Regions from separate parts of the Homo sapiens genome. Here all the other regions are reported to be linked to region 5. The links are microRNA targets in miRTarBase. Many come from high-throughput screens and were not tested one by one. Region 5 holds a microRNA gene; each other region holds the end of a gene's coding sequence.

Region 1 (6,100 bases), not on the chromosome of region 5:
GCAGTGTGCAAGCAAAGGCTGGAGGACACCTTGGGATTGTTGGACTAGAGCATCCTTAGGGTCCCTTCCAACTCAGACATCCCATGAGCCGGATGTGTAAGTGTGATTTCTGCCTGCAAGGATGGCAGCCATGTTGGAGAACCTCCTGTTTGTATTTCTCCTAGTTGGGGCAGGGTGAGCCCTCGGATTGAATGCTGAAGGGAGATGGCAGCCCTGTTGGCCTTGGCCCATCTCCCATCGTAGCCCAGTCCAGTCTTGTCTTGGAGAAGGTGGCCAGGAAACTTGGGCCTGAGGGAAGGGAACAAGTCCTGTTGCTGGTTTCCAGTTGGCCCAGTTCGGCCCAGGTTGCATGGCTCTGGCCCTGCCCACCATACCCATTGTACTTTTCCAGACTCTTCTGCACCATGGAGCCAGAGCCAGTCCAGCCCGGCATGCTTATCGATGTCTGCAAGTACCTGGGCTCCCTGCAGTACCGCGTCTGGAAGAAGATGCTTGCATCTGTGGAATCTGGTGAGCGGGGGTGCCGGCAGGTGTCCCAAGCATGGGTGGAAGCCCTTCATGTTAGCAAAGAGGCACCAGGGCTGGTCTCTGCCGGGCCCACCTCCCACCTCCTCAGAGCTCCCCTCCTCTCTCAGCTGATCCCTCTGCCAGTCCCTCGCAGGCAGGTTCCTGTACCCTGGTCTTTTCCACTCTGCCCAACACCTCCAACCCTCCTGGTAGAATGCCTTCTCTCAGGGTCCTGACACTTGGTCCCTTCTTCAGAGAGGGAAACTGGCTTTCTTGCCTATTCAGAACTGTGTTTTGTATGATAAAAGACCTCCTGCATCTGGGCTTGCCTCTCCTAAGGCGACTGCAGCCCACATGAGCCACAGTGTCCTGGTTTTACGGGGAGGAATATCACTGACTCAGGGAATGGGCCGTGCTGTCCTAACATCCCTTGGTCGTGTGAGTGTTAAGAGTCTCTGCCTGTATGAGTTCCTGTGGCTGCCATAACGAAGGACCACAAACTAGAAAATGACAGAAGTTGACTCTCTCACAGTTCTGGAGGGTAGAAATCCAAAATCCAGATGTTGGAAGGACCAGGCCCCCTCTGAAACCTGTAGAGGAGAGTCTTCATTTCCTCTTCCGTCTCCTGGTGTCTCCTGGCCATTCTTGGCCTTATTGGCTCCCCCTCAGCACTTTGATCCTCACCTCCGCCATCACACAGCATTCTCCCCTGTGTATCTGTGTCTGTCTCCTCTTTATTTTAAGGACACAGGTCATATTGGATTGGGGACCCTCCTCCAGTCTTCATCTTAACTAATATGTGTACAACCACCCCATTCCCAAATAAGGTCACACTCGGAGGTACCAGGGGTTGGGACTGCCGCATATCTTCTGGGGGATACAGCCCAACCCCTGCCACCACTCCAGCCCTGGGCCACTCCTTGCATGGACTTGGGGCCAGGTGTGACACAGTGGTTGGTTTGTGGGGCTGGAGATATCCACGTGTGGCCTAAGGGACCTCAGGTTTGCTGATTCCCCATTTCCGCCTCTGCTTGCAGTACCCTTCAGCTTTGACCCCAACACCGCAGCTGGCTGGCTCTCCGTGTCTGACGACCTCACCAGCGTCACCAACCATGGCTACCGCGTGCAGGTGGAGAACCCGGAACGCTTCTCCTCGGCGCCCTGCCTGCTGGGCTCCCGTGTCTTCTCACAGGGCTCGCACGCCTGGGAGGTGGCCCTTGGGGGGCTGCAGAGCTGGAGGGTGGGCGTGGTACGTGTGCGCCAGGACTCGGGCGCTGAGGGCCACTCACACAGCTGCTACCACGACACACGCTCGGGCTTCTGGTATGTCTGCCGCACGCAGGGCGTGGAGGGGGACCACTGCGTGACCTCGGACCCAGCCACGTCGCCCCTGGTCCTGGCCATCCCACGCCGCCTGCGTGTGGAGCTGGAGTGTGAGGAGGGCGAGCTGTCTTTCTATGACGCGGAGCGCCACTGCCACCTGTACACCTTCCACGCCCGCTTTGGGGAGGTTCGCCCCTACTTCTACCTGGGGGGTGCACGGGGCGCCGGGCCTCCAGAGCCTTTGCGCATCTGCCCCTTGCACATCAGTGTCAAGGAAGAACTGGATGGCTGAGCTGGCCCGGGGCTGCCCCGGTCTTGTGCCACAGCACTGTTTTCTTTCTGCCCTCTTCCTAATGCCCACACTGCTTGGGCACTATTGCGCCCCTGCCTCCTTGCCAGGCTCTTCCTCCTGTCCTGCCTGGTCCTTTTCCATGACTCCAGGCTGTGCCTCTCTCCATGTTTGGTCCCTTCTGTGCCCATGGTCAGGAGCTATTCGGGTGGCACCTCGCTGGCCAGGCTCTCCCGAGTCGTGGCACCTCCACAATGTGAATTTTCTGAATCCCTATTCCAGGATTTCTGGGAATAATGTTTACTTCTAGAATGGGCCTGTTGTAAACCATCTCATCGAGGTGTGGTAAAGCCATTGGATGAGGAGGGGACTGCCATGGAAAGGAGAGTTTGTTACTTACGGTTCTGAGAGGAGGGGCCACATAGGAAAGCCCCACGGTGGGTCAGAAGGCGGAAGGAGGGAGGGGAACGTGTGGGCAAGAGACTTCCTCTGGTTTCCTCAGGAGGAAATGGGCAAGGCAGAGTAAGCAGGGGAGACAGGTTTAAGGGTAGCTGGCTTGAGTAATTTCAGTGGCTCTCAGGATAGGGGCTGCCCTTTTTGTCTGATACCTGGCCCCGGGATAGTCAGGACAGGTGAATGTTGGCCTGGGGTGTGACAGCCCTGGGAGAGCCATGTGAAGGAGGCAGCTGGCGCCATCGCTCCGGATTAGTTGGTTTCCATAGGAAAGGCATGCTTTCAGCCAGATGCTTGCCATCTCTAGGGATTGGGGGATTGGCTAGCCTGGGAGGATCAGTCTGTCCAGGTCAGCGAGGCCCCAGATACCAGAGCATCAAGAGTACAGGAAATACAGTTAATGCAGGGCCTCTGTGTGGCTGGATCCTCCGTCTCCATCAGATCAGCTCTGATTGATCTATTCTTGCACGATTTCCTCTGAACACAGGGTTCCAGAGTACTTAAACACAACATTTTTTAAATCGTGATTTCGGCCTATTTCCTTGCCAGGCCTGTTTCCCCACCAGGAAATGAGATAGGAGGACTGGATGAGGATGTCCTGTTATAGTTGCTGTGGAGGAAGTTCCTCTGGTTAATTCTCATCAGCGTCTGCAGAAAAGAAGGAAAGAGGGCACCCTTTTCAGTTGGGAAGAAAGGAGAGGGGTGGCGCCATGGACGTGGCCCTAAACGCTGTGGGAGAGGGAAGAGGAGGCTGGGCCTCGCTGCCCTCTTGTCTCTGCTGACTTCAGCCTGGTCATGCTTGCTCTGCCACTTGCGATTTCATCCCTAATTTCTTCCTCCACCATGCCTGCAGACTTTTCCCTGGGCTTGTTTTTTCTCGCACATCTCTGAAGAGTTTTTAATCTTCAGCTCATCATGTCCCAGGAAGTGGCATCATAAAAGGAAATATTTTTTTTTCCTAGGAGCAGTGTTAAAATCTGGGTCACATTCCTGACCAAGGACAGCATCCTGCCTTCTGCCCATCCCCTTCAGTTCACAAAAGCTGACATTTTAAACAAATCATGACTCACACGTATTAATTGGTTATAAATATGTTGTGTACACTGGTTAGATAAAACTTAAGGCCACAAGGAGGGCCCAGGTAGGCGATGTCAGTGTGTGAAGGGGCTGGATTGGGCGTGGTGAGGATGTTGGCAAACCAGTGCATGCACCTGGTTGGAAGATGCTCAGCCTCACAAAAGCTCCAAGCCCTTTGGGAGCCAAAGTGTCTGAGAGTGTGACCCTCTCCTGTAAAGTATTTATCCCACCCATTAATATAATTTCTGTATAATAAACTTGACCTGAAATTATTTCATTCTTTATATTAAACTTTTAAAAATGTTTTTTATTTTCACCTTAGATATGGGAAGAGTTTTTTTTTTTTTTTTTTTTTTAACAGGATAACTTGAGCAGGCTAGGCCTCTTAAAAAAAAATTTGAGCTAAAACTCATTTTTCTTTTGGCATTTTCTTTTCAATGTTCTTATAAGCAAAGTTCATCCATGTTGTAGCATGTGTTCAACTTTATTTTTTCATCGGGTAATATTCCATTGTATGGAATGGTAGTACTACATTTTATTTATCATGCATCGATTGGTGGACATTTGGATCGTTTCTACTTCTTGACTATTATACATAATGCTGCTAGGAACTTTTGTGTATGAGTTTTTGTGTGGACATATGTTTTCATTTCTCTTTGGTATATGCCTGGGAGCAGATTTGCTGGATCATATGAAACTCTATTTAACCCTTGAGGGACTCCCAAACTGTTTTCCAATGTGGTGACACAATTTTATATCCCATCAACAGGGCATGAGGGTTCTGATGACTCCACATCCCTCAGTGCTTTTTATTATCTATCTTTTAACTTAGCCATCCTAGTAGGGGTAATGTGGCATCTCATTGTGATTTTGGTTTGCATTTCCCTGATGGCGAATGATATTGAGCATCTTTTCATGAGCTTATTGGCCATTTGCATATCTTCTTAGGACAGCTATCTTTAGATCACTTGCTCATTTTTTAATTGGGTTATTTGTCTTTTTATTATTGAGTTGTAAGAGTCCTTTTATAGCCTGGCACAAGTCCCTTTAACTGGTATATGATTATAAAATTTTTCTCCGTGAGCTGTTTCATTTCCTTGATGATGTCCTTTGAAATACTAAAGCTTTTAATTTTGATGATGTCCAATTTTTATTTATTTTTTCTTTTGTTGTACATGTATCCTAGAAATCTCACTTTTGATACTGCCCTTAGGTCCATGTAAGTTCGGGGTTTTGGCTCAGGGATGGGGCAGTTATTCTGTTGGCAGGAAGCGCTAGTCCACGAGTTCATTAATTCTTCCCTGAAGCCCCTCTCCTGCCCTTGCCTTCCACTCACCCCGTCACTCTCCTTCTCATTACTGTGTCCAGGCTCAAAGCAGCAGCTCTCTGGGAAGGCCCCCGTTCTCCAGTTTCTCCCACTTTTGCATCCATTCCACATGCACCATCGTTCATGTTCCCATCACCTGGAGAGACCCCATTTCCAACCCGCTGCAGTGCATTTCTCCAGGGCAGCTCTCAGGGCACATTGTCACTGCACTCTGCCTTTATACCCGGAGTCTTCTCAGTCCCGTCACACATGGCTCCAGCCGGACCAGGCTCCTGTTTACCCTTGAAATAGGCCACCTGCCCTCACCAGGGGCCCGTTGTCACTGGAATGTCCTGACCTTGGTTGCTCTGGCTCTCCTGATCATATTGGCTCTGCCGCTTACGTGATATCTCCTGGGGCACACACTGCCTGCCTGATCTTATTTTCTCATCTGTAGAAGTGGGGCCCCTCCCCACCTCCTGAATGTCTGAGCAGTGTGAGCACCTCAGAAACTGGAGTCTCAGAGCACACGAGAGCCTCAGTAACCTCCAGGCTCCCAGTCATGTCCACGTCAGCCACCAGGTATCAGTTGGTCAGAATTAGGTGCACAGGGGCCATTTCCTTTTTTGCTTCCTCTTGCTTGTGGGGGATGAAATTTCTCTCAACAGTATTTGATTGCTCAATATCACAATAGTGGAAGTCTTTCGTGACCCTTGTGGTGAGTGATGGGGCAGTGGCGGGAGTTTTCCCACCTCCAGAGTGACATTCGAGACCCCTCCCCGGCTGACTCCTGCAACCACGGTCACCACTGTTTACAAAGACCCTGCCCAGCCTTCCTGGGTGCAGGGTCCCATTGTTCCTCCTGCCTGCAGCGCCTGTCGCCCTCCCTTTATTGTCGCTCAGTCCCCCTTGTCAGCTCGGAGGTGCCTTCCCAGACCTGCCCGGGGCTCCCTGGGCTGCCACTGCATGCCGCCTGTTTTGTGGAAGAGCACCTCGCTGTCTTTTCTGCTTGCAGACCTGGGAGTGCAGGAAGCATGTCATCTTCCTCTTTCAGGCCCCAAATCTGTGGATGTTGCTGGACCATAATAAATGATTGTTGAGGCCGGGTGCGGTGGCTCACGCCTGTAATCCCAGCACTTTGGGAG
Region 2 (6,100 bases), not on the chromosome of region 5:
CCTTCTGGTTAGCCCAGTGCCTGGAACAGTGTGGTTTCCCAGTAGAGTTTGCCAAATTGACTAATTTCTAGAATGGGTGGTAGATTTTGGACGCTTCTGGACAAGGAGGGGATCAGTCTGATGTTGAGACAGCCTACCCACTACAAGAGGGCACTTGTGGTTTTCATTGTCTGCTATCACAATCATCTTTGATGTTTTAGAATTAATTGAACATCAACCTGTTTTTATAATTATAACTTTTTGTCATGTACTGTTCTGAAATTTATGATATTTCTCTCCTCACTTCTAGGACATCAGCCAGTTACTTTGAAATTGGGGTAATGGGGAGATTTTACAATTTGGTAGTATGGCAGGAAGGCTCACATATTTCTCCTAGGCCCTCTGATACAAGACCATTATCATCTGGGATCCACGTCCTTCACTGAAACTGAGTACACAGTGATGTGCCAAAGAGATACAATCCCAGCAGAACTAGATCTTAGAGTCTAGCTTTTAAAACCAACATTTATATAGTGTTTACCATGTGCCAGGCAATGGTCTCAATGCTTAATATGAACTCACTCATTTAAGCCTTACAAAAATCCAGTGAAGTCACAGCTGCTATTAATATTTCTCTTTGGCATACAGGAAAATACAGGCAGAGAGGTTTAATAACTTTTCTGGGACTGCCCAGCTAGGTGTAGAGCTGAGATTCTAAGCTAAGTAATCAGGCATCAGAGGCAGTGCTTTTTAACCTCTGTGTCTTTCTGCCCCTTCAGTATTAGTCAGCATAAATAATGCTAGCTGCTGTAACAAACAGTCCCCAGTCTTCTGTGTCTTTAGACGACAGTATTGTTTCCCACTAAATCACTGGGGGAGGGGATGCAGTTCTGCTCCATGTAGTCGTTAGGAGCTCAGGCTTCTACTACCTTCTGGTAACTTCTGGTAACTCCACTATCCCCTGCAAGTCCTATCTTGGATCCTCTGCATCTGCTCCCTAGATGGTTGATGAGAGAGCAACAGGATATATAGGAGGCTTTAAGGATCAGACCTAGAAATGGCACAGATGACTTCTATGCACATTTTATTGACCAGATTCGGTCACATGGCCCCACCTAGTTGCAAAGGACACTGGGAAAAATTGCATTCCTGTGTGTCCAGAGGAAAATGAAAAAAATGGTTGGTGATTAGATTGCCTCTACCATGTGAGTCCCAGAGACTATAACTAGGCCAGATATCAAAGATGCTTTGCCTTTCTCATCCTTGTGTTGTGAAAGACAAAGAGGCCAACTTATGTTTGCTCCTGACTCCCAAAGCCCAACACTTGACAGTCATATTTCTTGTATTTCAGGGTTCCTGGTGGCCTGGCCTATGGTCCTCCTGACTGTCCTCCTGGCTTGGCTGTTCTGAGAGCTCCGCTGAGCATCTGGCCTTGAAGTTTGTGTTCTTCCCTCTGGCAATGGCTCCCTTCAGCACTTCTGCTTTCCACTCCAATTCACACAGGCTTGGTATTAATAGAATCAAGGCCAAGCTAGGTTAGGAAAAGGGAAGAGCTTTCACCTTCTTTAAAACTCTCGGCTGGGCGCAGTGGCTCATGCCTGTAATCCCAGCATTTTGGGAGGCTGAGGCAGGTGGATCACCTGAGGTCAGCAGTTCAAAATCAGCCTGGCCAAAATGCTGAAACTCCGTCTCTACTAAAAATACAAAAATTAGCCAGGCATGGTGGCAGGCGCCTGTAATCCCAGCTACTCGGGAGGCCAAGGCAGGAGAATTGCTCGAACTCAGGGGGTGGAGGTTGCAGTGAGTTGAGATTGTGCCATTGCACTCCAGCCTGGGCAACAGAGCAAGACTCTGTCTCAGGAAAAAAAAAAAAAAAAAAGAAAAGCAACATAGTGGGGTTTCTGTCAATCTGTCCTCGGCTGCCCTTCTCATTTGTTGATGGGACCTTGAAAGCAAGCTTGCTAGGTGCCCTCTGTGGCTCCAGCCTTTACCGGAAGTGTGGTGCATGTTTTTAACTTCAGGGAAGCGGTATCCTGTCACTGGGGTATGGGATGAGCATGGAGAAGAGGCACCAGCCACGATTCCTTCCTAAGCATCTCCTGTTCTGACTGCTCATGAATTGAAGAAACTGACCCTTGTGTTCACTCTGCTTCCTCTGATTGTTTCTATCATGGTTTCCAAAAATTGCCATGGGAACATGTCAAAGGGCCACTTTTGGAGACTCTGCTCCAGGAAGAACTAGTCCCCATAGCTCCCCTATCCCCCACCATACCACAGACATGCTGTGACTTAGAGAACTACACAAACATCCTTGGGACCTAGATGCTGGAGGAATGACTTAATTTGATGCAGAAACTCCATCACCCAAGGGAGTACCTCTCACTGTAAACAGTGCTGTGCTTGCTCTGAAGGATTAAGCAAGAAGTCCCAACAGAAGCAATGCACCAGTCCTGCTATGGGAATGAAACTGCAAAGCCTAGGAGATGGGTGAAGTCCCTTTCTGGAGACCTTTAATGAGTACTTCAAAGCACCCGACACAGATGCAGCAAATAGGGCATCACACATACACAGGCATTAATACTCACGGGCATATAGATGCTGACATGTGTACACTGACTTACGCCCTTCCCACAGCTACAGATAAGGCCTCGCAAAGTTGGCCTCAGAGACACATCAGGAACCAAGGTGGACCAGCAGGTGCCGAGCCTGTGTATCTGCTTGGAGGAGACGTTCCAATGTGCTGCCTTGTTCAGAGATGGTGTAGTTGCAAGAAACAGAAACCCACCACAATTTCTCAGGCAAAAAGGGAGTTAATTATAAGGACATAAGAGCACAAAGTTCCAGTGCAAGAGATACATCCAGGCTGCACAAGCTCCGGGAGTGGGGCCTGGCAAGCCAAAAGAAACCAAAGTTTGTCTTGCCTTCTGTTCCTCTTTCTGAAGCCACATAGCCTTTTATGACTGTGTATTTTTGCATCGCTTTTGTTTTCTTTTTATGTCTCTGAAGCCAGCTTTTCCTGTTCACTCATCCCTTGATTAAATATGGACATTCTAGCTTCACATCACTTCCTAATTCAGGGACCAACAGAGACTGGTTAGCATGTTGCTATCCCACCTCCAAATTGCATCAGGGAATTTGATTTTGCTGCTTGGGTCAGGGTCCAGTAGTCTGGGCCAGGGGACTGGGACCATCTAGCACATAGCCAAAGGGGCTGACCTAATGGGGCAGGTCTGACACAAATGGGGTCATTTCTTGGACAGACATCCCAAGGGCCACTATGATAGTGGCTTCTCTAAAAGACGGGTTCCTGAGAAGAATTGCATTCTGTTTCCCAGTGAGTTAGCGGAGTCATACTTACTACATCCCAAGGCAGGTGGCATGGTAGAAACAGGCCTGAAAGAGAGGTCAGGTTCTAACCTTCTCCCCTCTCTGAGGCTCAGCTGCTCCCTTCTGTAGAATAAAAGGGGTTGGTCTGTAACAAGATTTTCAAAAATTTATAGTAGTGAAACTTTACAATTCGACTTGGACAACCAGAGATTAAAAGCAAATAGATTCTTGTTGATGTCAGGTGGGGAGCTTAGCTCTCCCATTCTGTGATTCCTTCCTCTGAAGGCCCTCAAAGCAACTCCATAATAACTCACAGAGCTGCCAGAGCCGATGTTTTGGAGCACCCTGAGACATATGAACTCTAATATAACTTCCAGGAGAAAGTACATAGGATTCCACTTAGAGCCAATCTCAGCTGTCTATCTGTCTAGCTACCTGTCATCTATCTATCCATGTATCTATCTATGTATCTATCTATGTATGTATGTATCTATCTATCTATCATCATCTACCTCCTATCTACCTATCGTCTACATACCTCCCTACTCAATTATCATCTAGCTAGCTAGCTATTTACACCTTTTTGTTTTCTACAAATGGGCATGTTGTCTGAATAACAATCTCTGAATGTCCAGTCCACTTCATTCATTCATTCAGTCAACACAAATTTGCTTAGCAGTTTTTATGTCCCGGGTCCAAGGGCCTGGGTACAATAATTAATTAGACACAATCCCTTCCCTAGGAATGTTCCCAATCCTGGCAGAACACAAACTCACATAGAGGCACTCACAGGCAAACCACAAACACACATGCCCACTTAGCCCCCCACACAGGCCTGTATACCCAGAGGCGTCTATCCACACCAACACACACATTCTAACAGACACACATATCAACCTCACGTGCCCAAAGGCACAGATGCACATGCAGAAAGCCTCAGAGACCCTCAAGTCAGCCACTTACATATTTATTGTCATGAATTACTTTGTAACAACCAATATTTTTTAACACCCCCTACGTATAAGGCATTATTTTAAGTGCATTTTGGGCATTATATCATTCCACCCTCACATTAGACATTGAAGGTAGCCACTATTATTACCTTCAATTTAGTGACGAGTAAACCGGTGCTTTAAAAAGATAATTACTCAAAGGCCTATAGCTTTTAAATGCTGATTTCAGGGCTTGAACCCAGGTAGCCAGACGTTGAAGCAAATGCTCTAAACTAGACTCTGTATCCTGCCTCCATTTATATATAACACTTAACACACACACACACATAAACACACACACACACAGTGCGGCACCCATATACACACAAACGTATATGTGTATAACATATATGCACCCACTTGCAAACAGGTATGTGGACAGACACATGCATTTTCCAGCAAAGGCCCTCACACATACACAGGCATTAATAGTCATGGGCGTATAGATGTTGAGATGTGTGCGCTGACTTATGCATCATGATTTAGTGCAGACACACCAATGGAACTTCACATATAACTTAATACAGAAAAAAAACCCACAGAGACACTCCAATGTGTCATACGTGCACACACATATGTCTGCACATGCACGCATACATATACACATAAACACACACATACATCCCTACGAGACACAGGATCTGGATCCAACTCTCCTAGAACCAGGATTCCTGCCATGTTTCTCTCCCATCAGCTTACATCTCCCACCCCCAGTGCTGTTCAGCTGGGCTCTGGGGCAAGATAAATTCCAGCTGCAGAGGGCTCAGTGAAATGGGCCCTGGACCCAGCATCTGAAAGTTCTGGAGAGTAAGGATGTTGGGGATAGCCAGAAGCAACCTGAAGACTAGTCTTCCATACCCAGGAAGACTGGCCTCTCAGGTTTGAAGAAGCCTTTGCAAGCAGCTGGTAGAGGATACCGAGTGGCTTAAGGTGCCCTCCCCTCCAAGAACTTCAACTCTTCTTGGGGAAACAGAATGCAGATACTGGGCAGCAAAAGCTTAGTAGTGTAAGACTGAGACAGATACTGCAAGACTCAGAGAAGGGAGAGCTCAGCCCAGCCTGGGAGAAGAGGGAAGGGCTCAATCCCAGTCCCTTCATTTCATGGATGGAAATTAAGGTCCAGCAAAGACAAGTGGCATGTCCATCCTTAATGACCAGGCAGGGATGAAGGTGGCAGGGAGAAAGGTAAAACTGGTCACCTGAAGGAAATTTGGCATGGGAACCCCAGAGGATACACCCCACCCATCCTAACTCATTTCATAATCTCTCCTCACTCCGTTCCTCTCTTTCAGCCTCTTTCTCCTGTGAAGGGCCAGAAATCACCCTCATATTTTCTATCATATTAGATTCTCCCTTCTAAAAGTCTATCAAATTCATCCACTTTTCTTCAACCCCATTGAATCTGATCTTTTCCGGGCTACTTTCATCTCTCACCTTAACCACCATAATAGCTTCTTAAGTGGCCTTTCTTCAGGCTCACCTCTCTCAATCCATTCTCTACTCTGCAGCTAGTGAGCATTTAAAACAAAAGACACTTTCTCCTTTAGATCGCTCCAGAGGCTCTTTACCTTCTATAGGATGAGTTCTGCCTGCTTACCTGACAGATCACATTCTTCACCATCTGAGCCATTGCCTGCCTCTCCAGACTTAGCCCTTAAACATATCCCCTTCATAACCCAGCTTCCAGTGCCACGGAATTTCTCAGGCTCCCTGAGCTGTTCTATTGCACTCTACCCTACTCTCGTGTGCTGTTTTGCTGCCTGGAGGACACTTCCCCTTATTGGGGTTATTTCTCCTATGAA
Region 3 (6,100 bases), not on the chromosome of region 5:
GAACTGCATGCATCATGCTCTCTCTGTGTGCATTTTCCTGGACAAAAGCCCATAGTGCCTATCAGATTCTCAAAGGGACTCCTGACTCCAGAAAGTTTAAAAACCATTAGGCTTAAGGAAGCACATACCTACTCTGTACTCCAGGGACCAGGTGGGAACAGCTGAGTGCAGGGAGTGGCTTTCTCTTTCAGACCCTCTCCCGGAGCCCCATGGCTGCCTTCCTGATACAGACCAAGGACAACCCCATGAAGGCCGTGGGTGTGCTGGCCGGCACCATGGCCACCGTCGTGGCCATCACTGTCCTCATCTCCACCGCCACCTTCTGGCGCAACAAGAAGTCTAACAAGGTCCTGCCAATGCGGCGGGTGCTCCGCAAGCGGCCCAGCCCTGCGCCCCGCACCATCCGCATTGAGTGGCTCAAGTCCAAGAGCACCAAAGCCGCTACCAAGTTCATGCTCAAAGAGAAACCTCCCAATGAGAACTGTAACAACAACAGCCCAGAAAGCTCTCTGCTCCCGAGAGCTCCGGCTCTCCCTCCACCACCCAGCGTGGCGCCCAGCACTGGCGCAGCCCAGTGGACCGTGCCTACTGTCTCTGGCTCTCTCACTCCGCAGCCGACCCAACCCCCGCCAAAACCCAAAACTATGGGAAGCCCCGTCCAGTCAACTCTGATCTCTGAGCTCAAGCAAAAGTTTGAGAAGAAGAGTGTGCACAACAAGGCTTACTTCTAGTGTATGCCCTATGACCCCCCATCTTTCCTCCGCCCCTGACCCCCACCACCCTGCTGCTCGGACTATGCTCCCCTTCCTCTGCTCCTTAAGGTCACTGACCCCTGTTTTGCACAATGGTATAATCCCCACTGTCCTCATCTCTACCGCCACCTTCTGGCGCAACAAGAAGTTGCGCTCTGACAGGGCTCTAGTCAGGGCCTTGGGCAAGACATTGGGCTCTAGGATGCAATTGGCAAATACGTCCCCGTTACTCAAATCCTTGGCACTACTACAATGCCCTCCATTCTTCAGGGCTGAGAATTGACGAGAAGCCAGCTCACCCATCCCAGACCTCACAGTCCCTCAGGTTCTACTGGGATCTCATCATCATCCTTAGTCAAGCAGCAGGGCCCTGGCCACGTGGAGCAACACTGACTAGAATCTGGATCCTGACGCCTGCAGCTGAGAGCAGGAGCAGGAAAAGGAGGCTCAGCACTGTCTCAGGCTGGAGGTCAGCGAACCTCGTGGGCTGTAGGAAAGCAAATGTAGGTAAGGGGAGAGCAAGGATGCACAGAAAACACACTGACTGTGGGACTGTGCCAGGATGCATTTGGAAAGATAGAGCATTCTGTCTGGGCAGAGACTGTGGACCCTGGTATGCCCACGTGGGACAGAGGACACAGAGGTGGAAGATTGATCTTGCCAAGAGTGAGGGCAGATGTCTCCAGCCAGGACTGCCCTGAGCCGCAAAATGTCAAAGCTGGAGCTATAGAGGTAGCCCTAAAGGCAACTAGAAGAGCATCAGGGCTGCTCTCTGAGGAGCTGCCCCACCAGCCATCCTTGAAGAGACAATTCAGGGCAGTTGATGAATATCAGGGCTGAGATGTGGTGAGACTTCCGTTTTTATCCAGCTCTTTTGCTCACATCGCGTAACCTTGGGAAAGCTGTTTAAAGTCGCTGATCATCCTCTTCCTCATCTGTAAATGAAGAAAGTAGGCCCTGTCTACCTCACATGCAGGTCTAGGGTGAGGATTGAAGAAAATAGTGGTGATGAGGGCTTTAACCAAGTGCAAAGCGGCATGAATGCAAAGTATTTTTCTGCAGCCCAGTTCTGTGGGTGCAGCTCTTCCAGAAAGTATTAGGAGCCTCACATCTACTCTGCCAAGCGCCCCAGCAGGCACTGTGCTGGGCTTAGGGGCTACCACTGGATGATGGCATTGCCGTGACTCACACACCTCTACTTCTGTTCTTCCCTCACTCCATCCCCGCTACCGTCCTGGCCAGCTACCGTCAGAGAGAACCAGAGCTCCAAGTCTTTAATTTGCCAAGATGAAGAAAATGAGTTCTCAAGGAGGGAATGCTTTGCTTGAGGCCACACAGCAGGTTGGTAGCAAAGATCTTGTCTAGCCAGGGCAGCCCTTATCAGCTTGTGACAACCTTCCCCAGGACAGAAGTCATACAAGGCCTCTGGGGTTAATACAAATAGGTTGTGCCCTGCTTTAAGGAACCTGCTATCAGGAAATCTACATGTGTGCACAGAGAGAGAAAAGTAGAACAGTTCTTTGCATTTGGCTCTACTTACTAACAACCCCTCTAGAATACATTGGTGATTTCATTTAAAGAGATTGTATGCATTTGTGGCTTTCCTGATTTCTGAGTCTGTGTTTGGAGGTGTTACTGAGATGTGCCAGTGTGCAGAATCCTTGCTGGGGTTTCTACAGTCCCCAACGTGAACAGTATTAAGCAAGAGGTGGACTCGAGCAATCCAGGAGCCCAGACTGAGCAAATAAGTACTTTCCAGCCTGTGTTTCAGGAGAGGACTGTGCTGGATCATGCTTGCCCTCCACAGGGAATACAGCATCCTTACAGCTTGCATGCAATCAACCTCTTTTGTAAATGGAAAATAAAGTCTGTTACCCAAAGGCCATGCTGATCCCCTGCTCCCTGCTTTCATTTATGTTTGCTGACCTGTGGAGACCAGTCTTTCTGACACACAGTGAAGCTCAACTTGCCTCCTGGCTGCTTCAGCAGGTGGATCCATTCTTCGACCCCCAGATGTGACTCTAAAGAAGGCTGAAAATTTTTGTCCAAATTGCCATGCAGATATCTTGAACAGCAGGACATTTGCAGGCCTTGTCTACTGGACTTTTCTCCCAAACAGGACAAGCCCAGGCAGGGCTGCATGGAGAGGAATGGAACCTGGAGCTAGAATTAATTGCCCACTCTCCCACCCTACCAGTGCAGCCCGGCAAGGGCAGGAATTGGGAGGCCTAGGGTGGGCATGAAAGCTTGGGAAGCACTGTCGTCTCTCAGACAGGCGTCCTAAAGACCTCTAGGCTGGAAGCTTGGGCTTGCAAGTGGATCCGGGACCGAGGGTGGTCTCTTGGACAACCCCAGGAACTTGGACCAAGGCAGAGCCAATCTTGCAAACTGGCCATGGATGGGGAAGTGCCCGGTAGCCAGCATGAGCCACACTAGGAAAGAGGAGGAGGGTGCAGCCAAACTTAAGGCACCGGCAAGTGTTGTCAGCACTGGAGGAGACCCCGCCAGTGGGGTGAGGCCAGCCAAGTCCCTGTGTTACGAATGGTGGGCCAAGGGGCTGTCTGCTAGGTCCCAGTAGGACAGGCAGAGCTCCAGGCTGGCACCATGGTAGGCCTCCAGGGAAAGAGCTGGGAGGCAGGAATGGCACACTGGGCAGGCTTGCCCATTCCTGGCCCTGAGAATGGAGCTGTAGCCTCATGGACAATAAATGGATGTGACACCAAATACTCTGCAGAGTCATTTTCCTCCTGCGGCTGAGCTCAGATCTTCCAATCACGTGAAATAACAAAGTCCTTTACAGTTTGACAGCCCTAGGTCTGAATTCTGGTTCTGCCATTAATTGTGACTTTGGGCAAGAGGTCAAGTCTCTCTGGGCCTCACTTTCCTCATTAACACAGGGTGCAAAGTATGGTTGCAGAGAGGATGAAAAGATCTAATATATGTAAAGTGCCTAGCACCGGCTTTGTATCTACTTACACAAGCTCAGTAGACACTTGCCGTGACTGTGGCCCACATACTAGAACACCATGTCCTGAAAGAGAGGACCCCCTCCATGCATCCTCACCCCCCAGGATGTTTCCACCCACCTGTAGGTCCAGAAGCTTTTACTTCATGCTAGAAAAAGAGAAGAGAGTGGATCCAGAGGGGAGTGGAGGACAGGGCAGATGCCACAGCATCTGTGGCCTGTGTAGCCGGCAGCCTGCATTTGGGCGTTGACATTCCAGGGGAGTTAGGAACAATGAGAGGTCTCTAAGAACTTGTGGCACTCTGTCCTCAAGCAGCTGTCCCTCAGAATCCTGCTAGAAAAGTGTGATCAGAGCTGGGAAGGAGCCACCATGCTCTGCTTCTCTAAGGATTTCGGTGATTCTATTTTTAGGGACTGAAGGCGTTGAGGGAATCCAAGGCCAGTCCACCTGCCAGGGGTGTTGGCATCTGTTGACAGGCAGTGGCACATCCTGACAGTCTTCAAGGCCTTGGCCACCAAGGGATGGAGAGGGAGAATGGAGAAGATGCCACATGAGGAATGAGGCAGGAGACTGGCATGTGCCACATGGAGGACCCCTTAGGAAACTCACAAACAACCTAGGGAGGGGTTCTCTGAAGGGCCTAGTTTCCAGAATGAGGCGGTCATGGCTTAAGCGACCATCATTTGATCAATAAAGCAGAGTAGCAACAGGCTGATGTTGGGGACATCGGTTTGATGTTATAAAATCGTGCACATGTACCCCTTTTGAGGCCTGAATGAGGTTCGGTTATTTATTCATTTCTCAATAATTTACTCAGCCATTCCTAGGGTGACAAGTTTGGAGTATATCTTCTGTGCCAGGCTCTCTTCTAGGTGTTAGGTGTATGTCTCTAACAAGATAGAAGGAAAGAAGAAAAGAAAAAGAACAACATTCCTCTCTTTAATTGCTAATCGCCTGGGCCTAGGGAGTCTTCATTTTAAAAGCAAGTAGCCCTGCTTACAAATGTCTCCTCAATCAAAGGCATTTGCCTTAAACTTGTATGGTCTAAACTCTAAATAAATAAGCTTCTCAAGGGCATGACAACTATATCGGAAACTGTAGCATCTTTTCAACATGAATTAAACAGAACATGTGAAGGATATTAGCCCAGATATCATGTTATTACATATATATATTTATAAGTATACACACATATGTAGTCTTAATAAGATGTGATATTCCAAATGGCCCTATGTGCTGAGTCACATTCAAAGAAAGCACAAACTGATGTAGATGCCTGAAATGATGGTAACATTTATTATTGTGACATTTACTGAGGGTTTACTATGTGCCAGGTATTGTTCTGAGAACTTTGTATGTTAAAAAAAAAGCCTCGTATAATTACCAGAATAACCCTATGAGGTAAGGACTGTTATTATCCCCATTTTACAGGTGAGAACACTAATGTACTATTATTATTCTATTTTATAGGTGAGAAGACTAAGGTACATGAAAAATAGTAACTTCCCTGGTACAACAAAGTCAGTAAGAAAACCAAAATTTAAGCCCAAGAAACCACATTCCAGCCAGGGTCTGTTCTTGCATCCCCACTGCGAAATTGCCTTATTCAATCTGAGTAATGTGAATCTGTACTCTAGAGTTTTTCAAGGGGCAGCCCAAGCATCTTAAAAAGTATCAGATTCTCAGAAATCCTCCCTAGACCATTTTCCCTCTCCCTAAATTTCTATGTTTACAGAAGCAACTGAATACTTCCCTACCCACCAACATGCTCCTGGCTCTCCCCTGCACTGCTTGCTGCTCTTCCACAGCCCTTCTCTCATCCTGACCCCTCTGTCTCATGTGCACCACCAAGCTTCTTTTGCTTGGCTTGAAGGTCTGAACATCCACTCTCACCTTCATGGTAGCCCAGGCTATTTCATGATGGTGACACCCTCAAGATCCGTAGACCACTGTATTAGTTCGTTCTCATGCTGCTAATAAAGATACCCGAGACTGGGTAATTTATAGAGGAAACAGGTTTAATTGACTCACAGTTCTGCATGACTGGGGAGGACTCAGGGTGGAAGGGGAAGCAAACATGTCCTTCTTCACATGGCGACAGGAGAGAGAAGAATGAGAGCTGAGTGAAGGGGGAAGCCCCTTATAAAACCATCAGATCTTTTGAGAACTTACTCACTATCATGAGAATGGCATGGGAGAAACTACCCCCATGATTCAATTACCTCCTATTGGGTCCCTCCCATGACATGTGGGGATTATGGAAACTAAGATTGAAGATGAGATTTGGGCGGGGACATAGCCAAACCATATCAATCCCCCTTGATGCTATGGAAGGAAGTACAGAGAGGCCACAAGAAGTACAAGTTCTTTTCTTGCTCCAAC
Region 4 (6,100 bases), not on the chromosome of region 5:
CTGGCCTCAGCCTCCCAAGTAGCTGCGACTACAGACACCCCCCACCACGCCCGGCTAATTTTTATATTTTCAGTAGAGACAAGGTTTCATTATGTTGGCCAGGCTGGTCTCGAACTCCAGGCAAGAATGTTTCTTTGAGACAGCAACTAAGTTCACAATGACCTTGAGTAGACTCCGGAGTGCTATAGTCTGTGCGTTCATTCCACTTTTGGGGGAATCCTTACAGATCCGTGAGTGTGAGGGAACTGGAAGCACAGGGGGCCCACCGGGAAAATGAAATGATTTTAAAGCAAAACCTCTGACCTGACTTGAGAACCTGGCACGTATCAGGTTTTACCAGGCTAAGACAGCAGAGAGACATGAGTTCTTCTCCTCCAAGGCGTATTCTGTACTGGGATGGAGGGGAATCACCACCTACACAAATACTTGAGTCCAAGGAGAGAGCAGGAAATAACACTGCGCTCCACGCAGAGTTTGCCTGTTCCAGGCAGGAGGCAGGGAGAGGTGGAGGCAGAAGGAACAAAGAGCTCATTGAGTAGCACCTTCCTCAACCATGAGACTGACCTTGCGACCCCAGCACCTGCTGGGGAGGGAAGGGAAGGGACACAGAGCCTCTGGCTGCTGGAAAGGGGAAGGATTCACATTAGTGAATACGATCTCCCTTTAGCTATGGAAACTGCAGAGGATGCACTGTCTTGGCAAAGGAGGTCTAGAGCGGGCCAGAGCTCTGCAACAGGAGACCGCAGAGCGGGCTGGGCACCTGCGGCTGGGCATACAGGCTTAGTGCATGCTGAGGGTTTATGTCACCGAGAGGGGTGTCTTGGAACTCCTATGTCTATTCAGTGCTCCCTGCTGGTATTTATTATTTACTTCCTTGGGCAGGATTAGGGTCAGGCCTGCAAGCACTTGTTGGTCTAGCAAGCTACAGGAGGTTTTGTACCCTCAGGGGGAAGATGCATGTGCTGGGTGAGGCTGCCTTCAGCAGAATAATGACCACCCCTCGTCCAAATGAGAAGTGACATTTCAAAGCAGCAGCTTGCAAAAAACCCTCAGCTGCTGATCGCACACGTTCTTCCCTTAGAAAACACCCATCCGGCTGGAGGAAGAAGACGCGGAGCAAATAAATTCAGATGTTTTATTCTGTAAAGCACATATGCACATACTTCAAACACGGAAAATTAATCTGGAAGTGAATGCCATAACAGATCAGCTACTGACCATCATGCAGCAAGAGGTGAAATGGACCCACTGGCCCTCAGGACCCCACAGTGCCTGCAGGAAGGGTGAAAACCCAGGAAGCTGAAGCCCTACACGCTGCCGAGGAAAACGCAACAGACATGGCAGGTGCCTCACGACAAGAAACACTTACAAATAGAATCAAAACTGATTCAAGTCATACAGTGAAAGGACAAAAGGAAAAAGGAAAGAGATCAATATGATCCGAAACAATCGTTTTAAGAGTAAGTTGCTGACCTTCTGCTGGCCCTCCAGTCCGAGATGCCTGAGGGTGAGCTGGTGCTCCTGCACGGGGCCGCCCTGAACAGCAAGCGCACTCCGTCTGTTGCACACTTCGAATCCTGAGGTCCACCAGCAAACTCTGGCTGAGCATTGAGCCTGGGAAGTGCCCAGATGGTGACAGGTCCCCTGGGCTTCCCGAGACTCGCTGGAGTCTCTTCAGGTCCTAGGCCTCTTCGTCCAGGCCCCCAGGCCTCCTCTCTCCCCTCAGCCTTCCTTTATAAACCTGATTGACTCTGCGTTTCTGTAAGATCTTTAAGAATTACTTGCTTAGGTGAATGTTGGATTTTAAAGTGTGTGTCCTGGCCTTGGGACAAGCCATCTGTCCAGGCATTTTTGGCACTTCCTTTCCTCACATCTAACAGTGTTGCCCCTCCCCTAGCTACAGATTCCAGCCACTCTCTGTCATTAAAACAAGGGTAACTAATATTAGCAACAAGCTGGATTGAACGAACCAGTGAAATTGGCTTTTTCACTGTTTTTCTCCTTTGATACCACTCTGCCAGCTATAAATCTATCCCTATAACTCTGCTTCATTGGGATTTTATTAATTCAATAGCAGCTTAATCTAAAATCTGATGGTCCTAATGATAATGACGTTTCTAGAGCCAAGCCACATGGCTCTTTCTCAATCTTGTCTCTTAAGGGTCTCAAAGTCTCTAAGGAGAAAACTAAATTAACAAGTTAGCCATGCATCGTGTAAGCAACTCGTATCATACATAGAAACTGGATAGACAAGTACGATTACTGCACTTGAAACATACTAAAAGGAAAAAGAAAAATACTAACATATCAAGTTACTATGGTGATTATTTTAACAATCTTCAATAAAAGCACGCAACTGTTTTCTATTCAAAAATGCCTGGGATAAAATGTTCTAGGCCAATGTATTTCAGAATGCAGGAACTAATCCTAATTTAAAACAGACTACAAACCTAGAGTTAAGGAAAGGAAGCACTCATGGTCATGTCCAATGTTTTCATTGCCCTTCTGTTATAACACTGCCTGGGAGAACACAGAAGTTATTAGTGACAATGAGCTATTAAGGCAAAAAGTTATTTTAAAAAAACAGTAAGAATACAAGAAAGGACTGGAAAAGATAATGTATGGTTTTGCTTAAATGAATAAGGATTAGAAAGAAAAAGAAACAGGGACTAGACAATCAAACAAAATGGTGTAAGAGGGCCGAGAGCAGTGGCTGACGCCTGGAATCCCAGGATTTTGGGAGGCCGAGGTGAGAGGATCATTTGAAGCTAGGAGTTCCAGACCAGCCTGGGCAACAGAGGGAGACTCTGTCTCTACAAAAAAATTTTAAAATTAGCCAGGCGCGCTGGCACACGCCTGTAGTCCCAGCTACTCAGGAGGCTAAAGTGGGAGGATTGCTTGAGCCCAGGAGTTGGAGGCTGCACTGAGCTAAGCTCCAGCCTGAGGGACAGAGCAAGACCCTGCCTCCCCCCTCCAAAAAAAAAGAAAAAGAAAAAAAGTTATAAGAAAAATGCTTTCAGTTTTCCCTGATAAATGGCAAATCAGAATTGCATTCCTTCAAATTTTGCAGGCATCGTTTTCGTAATTTTACTGATCTACTAGTTGCCATTTCCTTCTGAAGATATGTTAGTAGCATGAAAATAAAAGCAAAACAAAAGGGAGAAAATCCACCCACTCTTTAAAAAAGAAAGAAGAAATCCTTTCCTATTAGATAGAATCATTATTCTTTCTTTCCATACTGTCATCTGCATTCCAGAAAGCAGAAGAGCAAACAGTCACTCTAACTCTAGAGCCATTTACATTTTGAAGCCCTTTTGAGTGAAGAGGCGCTTTAACTTTGATAACAGAAGGGAGGGACAAGAGTGGACGACAAGACAGTAGAACCTCCTATGCCAGCTCCAACAAGACCAGGTTCCTGGTCATCCATGTGGAAAATGAAACTTAGATCTTTACCATGTATGTGACTTAAATATTTAACTTTTTAGTCAGGATAAAAGCACAAGTCTGTCCTAACTAGAGTAGTATTAAAATGTGACTATTTTATTTTTTCTTCATAAAGGAAAACAAAAAACAAAAAAACAAAAACAAAACAAAAAAAACTTAAGGTATGTTTCCTGCAAGCAAAATGGAGAAAAAGGTATTATTGTTGTTACTATGATTATTAAGCCACAAACACATAAAATCCACAAAATGGATTGGTGGCTTTGGAAATGCAATACCGTATCAAAGGTGCAGACTGTTTCAAATGTTCTCTACATATTGGGCTGAAACAAGAACCAAACCAAACTTCAACCCCATCAGCGACGCAATGCTCCTGTGACCTTGGTGAAAACATCGTCGTGACCAGCTAGATCCAGGAATCCTTCTCTAGAGACACGTGGAAACGTCCCATCAGGTAGGTCCTCAAGTCCAAGGTGGGGTTGAAGGGCTCTGGCTGTACCCAGGGCAAAGCACGTGCATTATTGGACCAATTTCTGAATAGATTTTTATAAATATGTACAAATCAGTTACAGGCACTTGAAATGTCTTTGGCTGGAATAACCCAACATCGCAAGATAATGTATTCACAGAGCATCCAGGCCCAGGCTGGGTTCAGCAGGCAAGGATTATGGTTCTCTCAGTCTCTCTCAAAAAACAAGGAGCTGTGGAATTAGGCTTCAGCCAAAGCCACCTGGAAGACAGCAAGCCAGGGAAACCAGTCAAAAAAGGGAAGCCTAGGTAACTCAGCCCCTACCCAAAGACCAGGATGCCACACTAATTGCACATATCAACCAGACAGTGAAGTTACTAAATCCCTAAAAAGAAAATCTCACCTAGGAAGAAATTACTAGAAATCTCAAAGTCTCCTGCAAGACGCGGCCCATCTGGAACCACTGTGCGGAGACAGAATTAACTGGTTTTTGTTTTTTTGAGACACGGTCTCGCTCTGTTGTCCAGGCTGGAGTGCAGTGGTGCAATCGTAGGTTACTGCAGCTTCCAACTTCTGGGCTCAAGCAATTCTCCTTCCTCAACCTCCCCAGTAGCTGGGAATACAGGCATGCACCATTACATCTGGCTAATTTTTTAACTGTTAGTAGAGAAGGGTTCTCACTATGTTGCCCAGGCTGGTCTTGAACTCGTGGGCTCAAGTGATCCTTCTGCCTCAGCCTCCTAAAAGTCCTGGGATTACAGGTCCACCTAGCTGAGGTAACTGTCTTTAAACCTTGATAAGCATTCTGTTAGAAGACTTCTTATGCTGATGGAACTACAGAGGAGGCAGCTACCCAGAGTCAGTAGTGCTCCAGTGGAGACTTGAGAACAACTGCCAAGTCACTCCCTTTAATAGCAACAGAGGCTTGGGTATATGATTAAAAATCCAACAACATAATTTAGGTTGAGAGTAAAGACACTTCTAATGAAGACAGAAACTACCGCTGGCCTTCTGTAATTGTGGGTTTCATATCCACAGATTCAACCAAAAATACACAAAAGAGGGCTGGGCATGGTAGCTCACACCTGTAATCACCTGTAATCTTTGAGAGGCCAATGTGGGTGGATTGCTTGAGCCCAGGAATTCAAGACCAGCCTAGGCAATGTGGCGAAACCCTGTCTTTTCAAAAAATACAAAAATTAACCAGGTGTGGTGATGCATGCCTGTGGTCCCAGCTACTCAGGAGGTTGACGATCGCTTGAGCCTGGGAGGTCAAGGCTGCAGTGAACTATGATTGAGTCATGAGCTACGATCGCACCACTCTACTCCAGCCTGGGTGACAAAGTGAGACCCTGTCTCAAAAAAAAAAAAAAAAAAAATTAAAAAAGCAAAAATACTCAAAAGAAAAAAAACCAATACATAAGAATACAACAATAAAAATAACACAAGTTTTAAAAATACACTGTAACAACTATTTACATAGTATTTACATTGTATTAGGTATTATAAGTAACCTAGAAGCTGGGCCCAGTGGCTCACGCCTGTGATCCCAGCACTTTGGGAGGCCAAGGCAGGTGGATCACTTGATAACAGCAGTTCGAGACTAGCCTGGACAACATGGTGAAACCCTGTATCTACTAAAAATACAAAAATTAGCTGAGTGTGGTGGCACATGCCTGTAATCCCAGCTACTCTCGAGGCTGAGGCAAGAGAATCACTTGAGCCCAGGAGGCAGAGGTTGCAGTGAGCCAAGATCGTGCCACAGCACTCCAGCCTTGGTGACAGAGCAAAACTCTCTCAAAAAAAAAAAAAAAAAAAAAAAAGAAAGTAATCTAGAGATTAACGTTACAGAGGATGAGCTGGGCACAGTGGCTCACACCTGTAATTCCAGCACTTTGGGAGGCCAAGGCGGGTGGATCACTTGAGGTCAGGAGTTTGAGACCAGCCTGGCCAACATGGTGAGACCCGGTCTCTACTAAAAATGCAAAAACTTAGTGGGACGCGGTGGCTTGCGACTGTAATCCCAGCTCCTCGGGAGGCTGAGGTGGGAGAACTGCTTGAACCTGGGAGGCGGAGGCTGCAGTGAGCCAAGATAGTGCCACTGCACTCCAGCCTGGGAGACAGAGCGAGACTCCATCTCAAAAAAAAAAGTTACAGAGGATGTGCAGAGGTCATATGCAAATACTGTAC
Region 5 (6,100 bases):
GCACTCATGGACATAAAGATGGCAATAATAGACAATGAGAATTTCAAGAGGTGGGAGTGAGGGAGGTAGGGAAGAGCTGTAAAACTATCTACTGAATACTATGCTAAGTACCTGGGTGATGGGATCATTTGTGCCCCAACCCTTACAGTTTAATAACACTCTATTTATATGCTAATAGCAGTTAACAAACTGTTTAATAAATTTATTATTTTAGCAATAATTATGCAACTGTTAATATGTGCAGGGCACTATTGTGGCTGGGTAGGTGGAGGGGAAGGTGGATGAATGGGGAGAGAGGATAAAATCAGATATAAACATTACTTTCAATGAGCTTAACATCTAGTAGACCGGATTACTGGTGAAAAATACAGGACAAACCATTGATGCCAAAGATCATTTACCAAGCTAGGTATAATGAGAAGCATGGCTTACCCTCCTGAGAAAAAGGAATAAAACCAACTTTTCCAATAAATCTTAAATTTACCCAGTGGTTTGCTACATAACGAAAAGTGTTTCTCTCCTCCTTTCAGTTTTTGTTGGCATACCACCACCTACTCTGTGGCTGGCTTGCAGGCTGTCATAGTGAATGACGGCCTCCAAATGCCACCGTCCCTTGGGCCCATTAGTCATGAGCACTGTTCAGTAGAGAAAATAGATTTGAAAATGCTTTCCTAAGGACTCTGGTATTTGTTGATGATATCCAATCTAAAGAATATCTATAACGATTGCTCTCTCTCTGCTGGAACTTCAGAGCTCTCTAATTTCCCTGAATTGCCAAAAAAAATGCTATTAGCATTTGGCAGAAGGGTCAAAACAGTACTATGTAAATAAGTTTTTGTTTGTGACCTTTCAAAGTTCAATCGGCTTTACTAGCAGGAATATACTATCTTGCCTTCCATCAACTGGACTGTTAATCTTAAAAAAAATAACTCCTTCCTATGTTTGGAAATCATTTGTACCTTATAGTCCTCTTTCTCGATATGAAAACATCCAAGGTGTTGTGATGAGGTTTCCAATTTGATTAGAAACAATTTCTTGGAGTCCTATTTTTAAAAACCATGAAGTACACATGAACTGAGTACATGGAATGTAATCTAAATTTGCCTTAATGTTTCAAGGTTACTATTATAAAAATGAATCACTGTACTATGCTGTGCTACTCTTAAGGGTAATTAAGGTATGCAGGAAAGTTATCCCCTAAGCTGATTCCTGATTGCTGTTCTTTAATAATTTTCTCCACATTTATCTTACCCTCACTGCAAGACATGGGGGTGGGGGGAGGAGGGAGGTATAGCATTAGGAGATATACCTAATGCTAAATGACGAGTTAATGGGTGCAGCACACCAGCATGGCACATGTATACATATGTAACTAACCTGCACATTGTGCACATGTAGCCTAAAACTTAAAGTATAATAATAAAAAAAGACATTTCTTCTTGTTGCTATCATCAGAGCTGACTCCAAATAAAATGACTGCTTTCTTGTCTAAAATGGATTAACCAGTTACCTTCTTAACTAATTCAGCTAAAAGGTTAATGAATAAAAACAGTTTAATATCCTTGCCTTAAATAAAACTAAACTCTTCTCCTAAGCTATATTCTCAGCCTTTACCACTTCTCAAAATAACAAATTCCAAGTGCTCATCACCCCTTTCATTTTCCTAAATTTACTTGAAATTTTGGTATTCAGGAATATAGCTAGTCCAGTAAACAAATCCAAGTCCACCTGATCCACCCTTTTACAGACTTCAGTGATACCCCTTTTACTTTTGTCTTTCTGAATAACAAGCACCCATCTTTTTAGACTATCCTCATATGATGTTTTATATGACATGTTTCTTACGTAATATCTCTCGCTACTAGTATTTTTGTTGCCATTATTCCCTTCCCACACCATATTTCTTTTCTTTTTCAGAATCAATGCATCATTCCTCAAGCATAGTAGCAACGTATTTGGTCAATGGTTCTCTGTACTAAAAAGTCCAAAGTATATTAGTGTCCTTCACTTGACACTTAGTAGATACCACCTTGCATCATTCTTTATCCTTGTATCATCAATAGCAGCCAATATTGAATATTTAGTAGGTGAGGCACACAGAGGGGAAGGAGCATCCATTTTCCAAGGCACTATTAATTTCAAATAGGCTACCTACATTTTCAGATAATGTATTCCAACTTTTAGTTTGGAAAATATGGTCACCATAGGTGAAAAAATCATACATGAAACTATCATACATAAAAAGTATATACAGTATATAATTAGATTGGCAAAACTCAGTGCTAGAGACAAAATGAACTTAAAGGGCTGGAGGAGTTTTTTGTTATTTTTTTTTTAAAGATGGGCCAGGCCAGCGCGGTGGCTCAAGCCTGTAATCCCAGCACTTTGGGAGGCCAAGGCTGGCAGATCACGAGGTCAGGAGATCGAGACCATCCTGGCTAACACGGTGAAACTCCGTGTCTACTAAAAATACAAAAAATTAGCCGCACATGGTGGCGGGCGTCTGTAGTCCCAGCTATTTGGGAGCCTGAGGCAGGAGAATGGCGTGAACCCGGGAAGCAGAGATCGTGCCATTGCACTCCAGCCTGGGCGACAGAATGAGACTCCGTCTCAAAAAAAATAAAAAAGAAAAAAGAAAAAAGAAAAAAAATAAAAGATAGGCCAGTCTGACCCAAAGCAACTAGAGGAGTTTCACAAAGAAAAGACATCTGAGCTGGTCCCTGACAGTTGAGTCATCTCTGGATACAGTAGAGATGAAAATGGGAGTGAGGTTTCTCATCTGAGCAGGTTTAAGCACCCATTTATATGACTGTCAAATATTGCTCAACAGCATCTTACAACATCAGTCAATTCCTTGGCACCTATAATAGATTCTGATGTCAATTGTTAGAAGGCCCTGCCTAATAAATCAGAGGTTTACCCCTTGGTTCCACATCCCATGTTGCTAGCTCATTCCCTGGCCTCATTTTACTGGGCTTCCTGAGATGGTCCAGTTACATTAGTCAATCAGAAGTTAACCAAAATGGCTTAATTGTTGGAATGGACTGGAGATACTCCAGCCTGAGAGAGAAAAGAATTCCAGTCGGTGATGCAATATGATCTTAACTCTCAAAGGCTAAACTAATTCAACATTTTTCTTCTTCATCTCCAAATTGTCGGGGATGATTATATAGAGATAACCTATAATAGACAATGTTGACATAAACCAATGTGTAGATCATTTCAAAATAGTAAATGAAAATAAGATAAATACAGATGGGAATCAAATATATAGATAAAACAATTACACCATGTGCATACTCAGGCCCATTAACAGGGAGGTGAGCAGGGAAAGGCAAGGAAGTTTCATGTTGACACAGAGGAGGTTGGTACAATTTATTGGGTTTCTTTTGAGTAGCCTAGGAAAACTTGGAGGAGTTAGGATATTAAAAACTGCTTACATGGAGTCGAGTAAGGTAGGGAAAAGGAAAGGAAGCTTGAGCTAAAGCTTGTGAACAGGAATAAGAAAATTTGGATGGGGCTTTAGAGGATCTGATAAACAAGCTTCCCTTTATATCTGTTTGTTGGTTTCTTTTATTTCTAGTGCCTCTTAAAATGAGCGTGTTCAAAGCCCTGAATCACCAAACAGCTAGTAAAAATTCAGGAATTTGTGAGAGCTATAAAAATTAAGTAGCATTATTATTACTAGAATTATGATTAATATGTAGACATATAAACAGACAAATAAGTAGAATTGCTAAAACAAATGTTGCAATCCAAAGATGTCATAGAGATGGCCAGTTAGCATCTTGAAGGTTTCCTATGTATTTCAGGCATCTTGTTATTTGCATATATGTTACAGGCATTATGAACAATTTCTAGGAATGACTTATGAACATTATACATATTGTCTAGGAATTGTTTAAAATTCCTGATTTAACATTCTGCCTATAACATAAATACTAGTTAAAAGGCAAGGAACTTGATCATACACTGGCATCAAATCAGAAGGCACTATTTCTGCAGGCCTGACATATAACCAGATAATTGATTATCTATAAAAAATGTAATACAGCATAGGTAATAGCCAAATAACTATACTGTATTTTTTAAGACGCATGTGTAGAAGACTACATAAAGTAAATGAAAGAATGTAAGTGCAAAGAAAATTTTGATTCAGTCCTTTTTAAAGAAAGTTATAAAACTTCTTATTGAGTTGTACAACCATAAGTCCAAACATATGATACATATTTAAAAATCTAACATTTTACAACGTGAAATACCAACATGATGGCTATATTGAAAGTAAGAACATGCTTCCTTCTGGCAATGAGCCCAAGATATCACTGCTTGGCTGTTGTTAACAAAGATGATGATGATGGCTGGTGATGGCTATAGCATATCTCTGGATTAGGAGCTGATTAGATTAGCTTAGTGCCTTCAGAGACTAATATCATGTCCCTTGTGGACGAGTTTGCATATGCCATGTTCCATTCACAGATTAAGACTGGTTTAGGCCAGCTAGCTTGCAAATACATGCCATAGGGTTTTGTTTTCAAGTGTGGGAACTGAAACCCAGAGATCTACAGTGGCTTGAGCTAGGGCACATAGCAAACTAATGAAGGGAAGAAGAGCTTCGTTCTCAGATGAGGAAAATCAAATATCAGGTCCCTGCATGCTCTGGCATTTACCCTTTTCCAAGCTAAAATTGCAGTCCTGGAATCTTTCTCCATGGTCTGACCACCTTCTTCTTAGGCTAGAAAATCATGACCCTGAGGCCCTCTTCAACTCTCCATCTAATTTGGGAATAGCCCCCACTGCCTGTATTAGAAATAGCAGCAGCAACAGTACTACTACTACTACATAGCATGCAGTATGGTGACCCTTTATATGTGATATCTCTTTTAGTTCCTTTCACAAACCCATCAAGTAAGCAATGTTATTATCTTAATTTTATAAATAAAGAAACTGAGGTTTGAAGAAGTTAAGTCACCCAGTTAGTCAGGGATCTAAGCCTTTACCTGCCCAACTCTGAAGCCCAGACTCTGAAGTACAACAATATGTTTCTTTCTCAGCATTGTGTACTGCTCTCTGCCACATCCTTCTCCTAACCCACAATAAACCTGCAAGAAAAATCTGAAGAGCCATCATAATTCAAACTTTAAAGTGATTTGGTATCACTTACAGCACTCAATAATAATGGCTGAAAAGCAACACAATCCTAGAGAATGACCATCTGTTTTAAGAGCTTAAGTGGGTATGTTTTTCTGGAATATCCCCTTAGAAATGTTTTTTGAACATTTGTTCAAACAAGTTGAAGTCTGGACACCCTCTGATGCCTTTCTCAACTGGTTAAATGCCAAGTATGACATAATCTTTCTGCATGTGGTTTGAGTTAGGTGGAAGTATTGTACGTGCCTGAGACACTGGGCAAGCCCTCCAGAGATGCTTCTAGATCCAGCCAAGAAGGCCCACTGAGGAGATGGCAGCCCTAGAATGATGGGGCTGAGATCAGTAATAGGCTGAGTAATCCTATAAGCCCCATTTAGGGGGCATCCTTCACCTGACAACTAGGACATTTGTGTTCTCCTAGTATTTAGGATATTCTCTCATCTTTGGGACAGGTCCCAGAAATGCCCAGTGGACTTTTCTTGCCTTGTGACTTAAGAGTTTCAGGGGCTCTGACCTTAAACCACTAGGCCAGCATTGCTGTGGCCTTACTTTCCTGCCACAAGTCACCTGAGCTCCACCTGCTGTACCATGAAATCATTAGGGAACTGATTAATGTCTTTAAAAGGTGCCTCCTAGTGCACATAACTGGAAGGTACTACAATCCCAGACAGTTTTACAGTTTTGGCAGAATGGAAATATTCTCTGTGGATAGATTGAATGTCACCTCTTGGCAAGGGTTTGTGGGAGATGGCTGCAGGGCCCTTCAGCAAAGCTGCCATGTGGCCAAGTCCATGTGATTGATGGGAACATGACTGTGGGAAGAGGCCAATGCTGGTAATGATGGGAGATACTTAAACCTAAGGGAAATCCCTGAATCCCCAACATCTGTGAGATGGATCAGATGAGGCTAGAGGACAAAAAGCAACAGAAAAACATTCAGCTGATATAA

Evidence for each region. The annotated mature microRNA hsa-miR-384 reads AUUCCUAGAAAUUGUUCAUA and lies in region 5 at 3,846-3,865, opposite strand. An mRNA with a match to its seed (bases 2 to 7 or 8) in the 3' UTR can be bound and repressed. Matches are read on the target gene's strand: a 7mer-m8 pairs with bases 2 to 8, a 7mer-A1 pairs with bases 2 to 7 and ends in A, and an 8mer does both.
Region 1: the mRNA of TRIM35 is a reported target of hsa-miR-384. Seed matches in the 3' UTR shown: 7mer-A1 at 2,542-2,548, 7mer-A1 at 2,839-2,845 and 7mer-m8 at 4,254-4,260.
Region 2: the mRNA of GP2 is a reported target of hsa-miR-384. Seed matches in the 3' UTR shown: 7mer-A1 at 1,517-1,523.
Region 3: the mRNA of CDHR1 is a reported target of hsa-miR-384. Seed matches in the 3' UTR shown: 7mer-A1 at 1,243-1,249, 8mer at 3,185-3,192 and 7mer-A1 at 4,316-4,322.
Region 4: miRTarBase lists TMEM248 as a target of hsa-miR-384. Seed matches in the 3' UTR shown: 7mer-A1 at 3,201-3,207.

What each region holds. Positions count from the first base shown.
Region 1 is chr8:27,283,572-27,289,671 of GRCh38, reverse strand. TRIM35 (tripartite motif containing 35) reads left to right here. Exons shown (of 6, transcript NM_171982.5): 5 at 392-510; 6 at 1,545-4,786. The coding sequence ends at 2,122. Among named protein-coding and RNA genes, the nearest start is that of TRIM35, 25 kb to the left of the region's middle.
Region 2 is chr16:20,306,512-20,312,611 of GRCh38, reverse strand. It overlaps GP2 (glycoprotein 2), which reads left to right. Exons shown (of 11, transcript NM_001502.4): 11 at 1,331-3,038. The coding sequence ends at 1,389. Among named protein-coding and RNA genes, the nearest start is that of GP2, 18 kb to the left of the region's middle.
Region 3 is chr10:84,213,891-84,219,990 of GRCh38, forward strand. CDHR1 (cadherin related family member 1) reads left to right here. Exons shown (of 17, transcript NM_033100.4): 17 at 192-4,804. The coding sequence ends at 731. Among named protein-coding and RNA genes, the nearest start is that of LRIT2, 8.6 kb to the right of the region's middle. RefSeq lists an enhancer at 369-892 and a silencer at 786-975.
Region 4 is chr7:66,953,573-66,959,672 of GRCh38, reverse strand. It overlaps TMEM248 (transmembrane protein 248), which reads right to left. Exons shown (of 7, transcript NM_017994.5): 7 at 1,122-4,171. The coding sequence ends at 4,151. Among named protein-coding and RNA genes, the nearest start is that of TMEM248, 35 kb to the right of the region's middle.
Region 5 is chrX:76,915,440-76,921,539 of GRCh38, forward strand. It overlaps MIR384 (microRNA 384), which reads right to left and starts at 3,921; the gene lies at 3,834-3,921. All of the region lies in intron 2 of MIR325HG (MIR325 host gene), which reads right to left.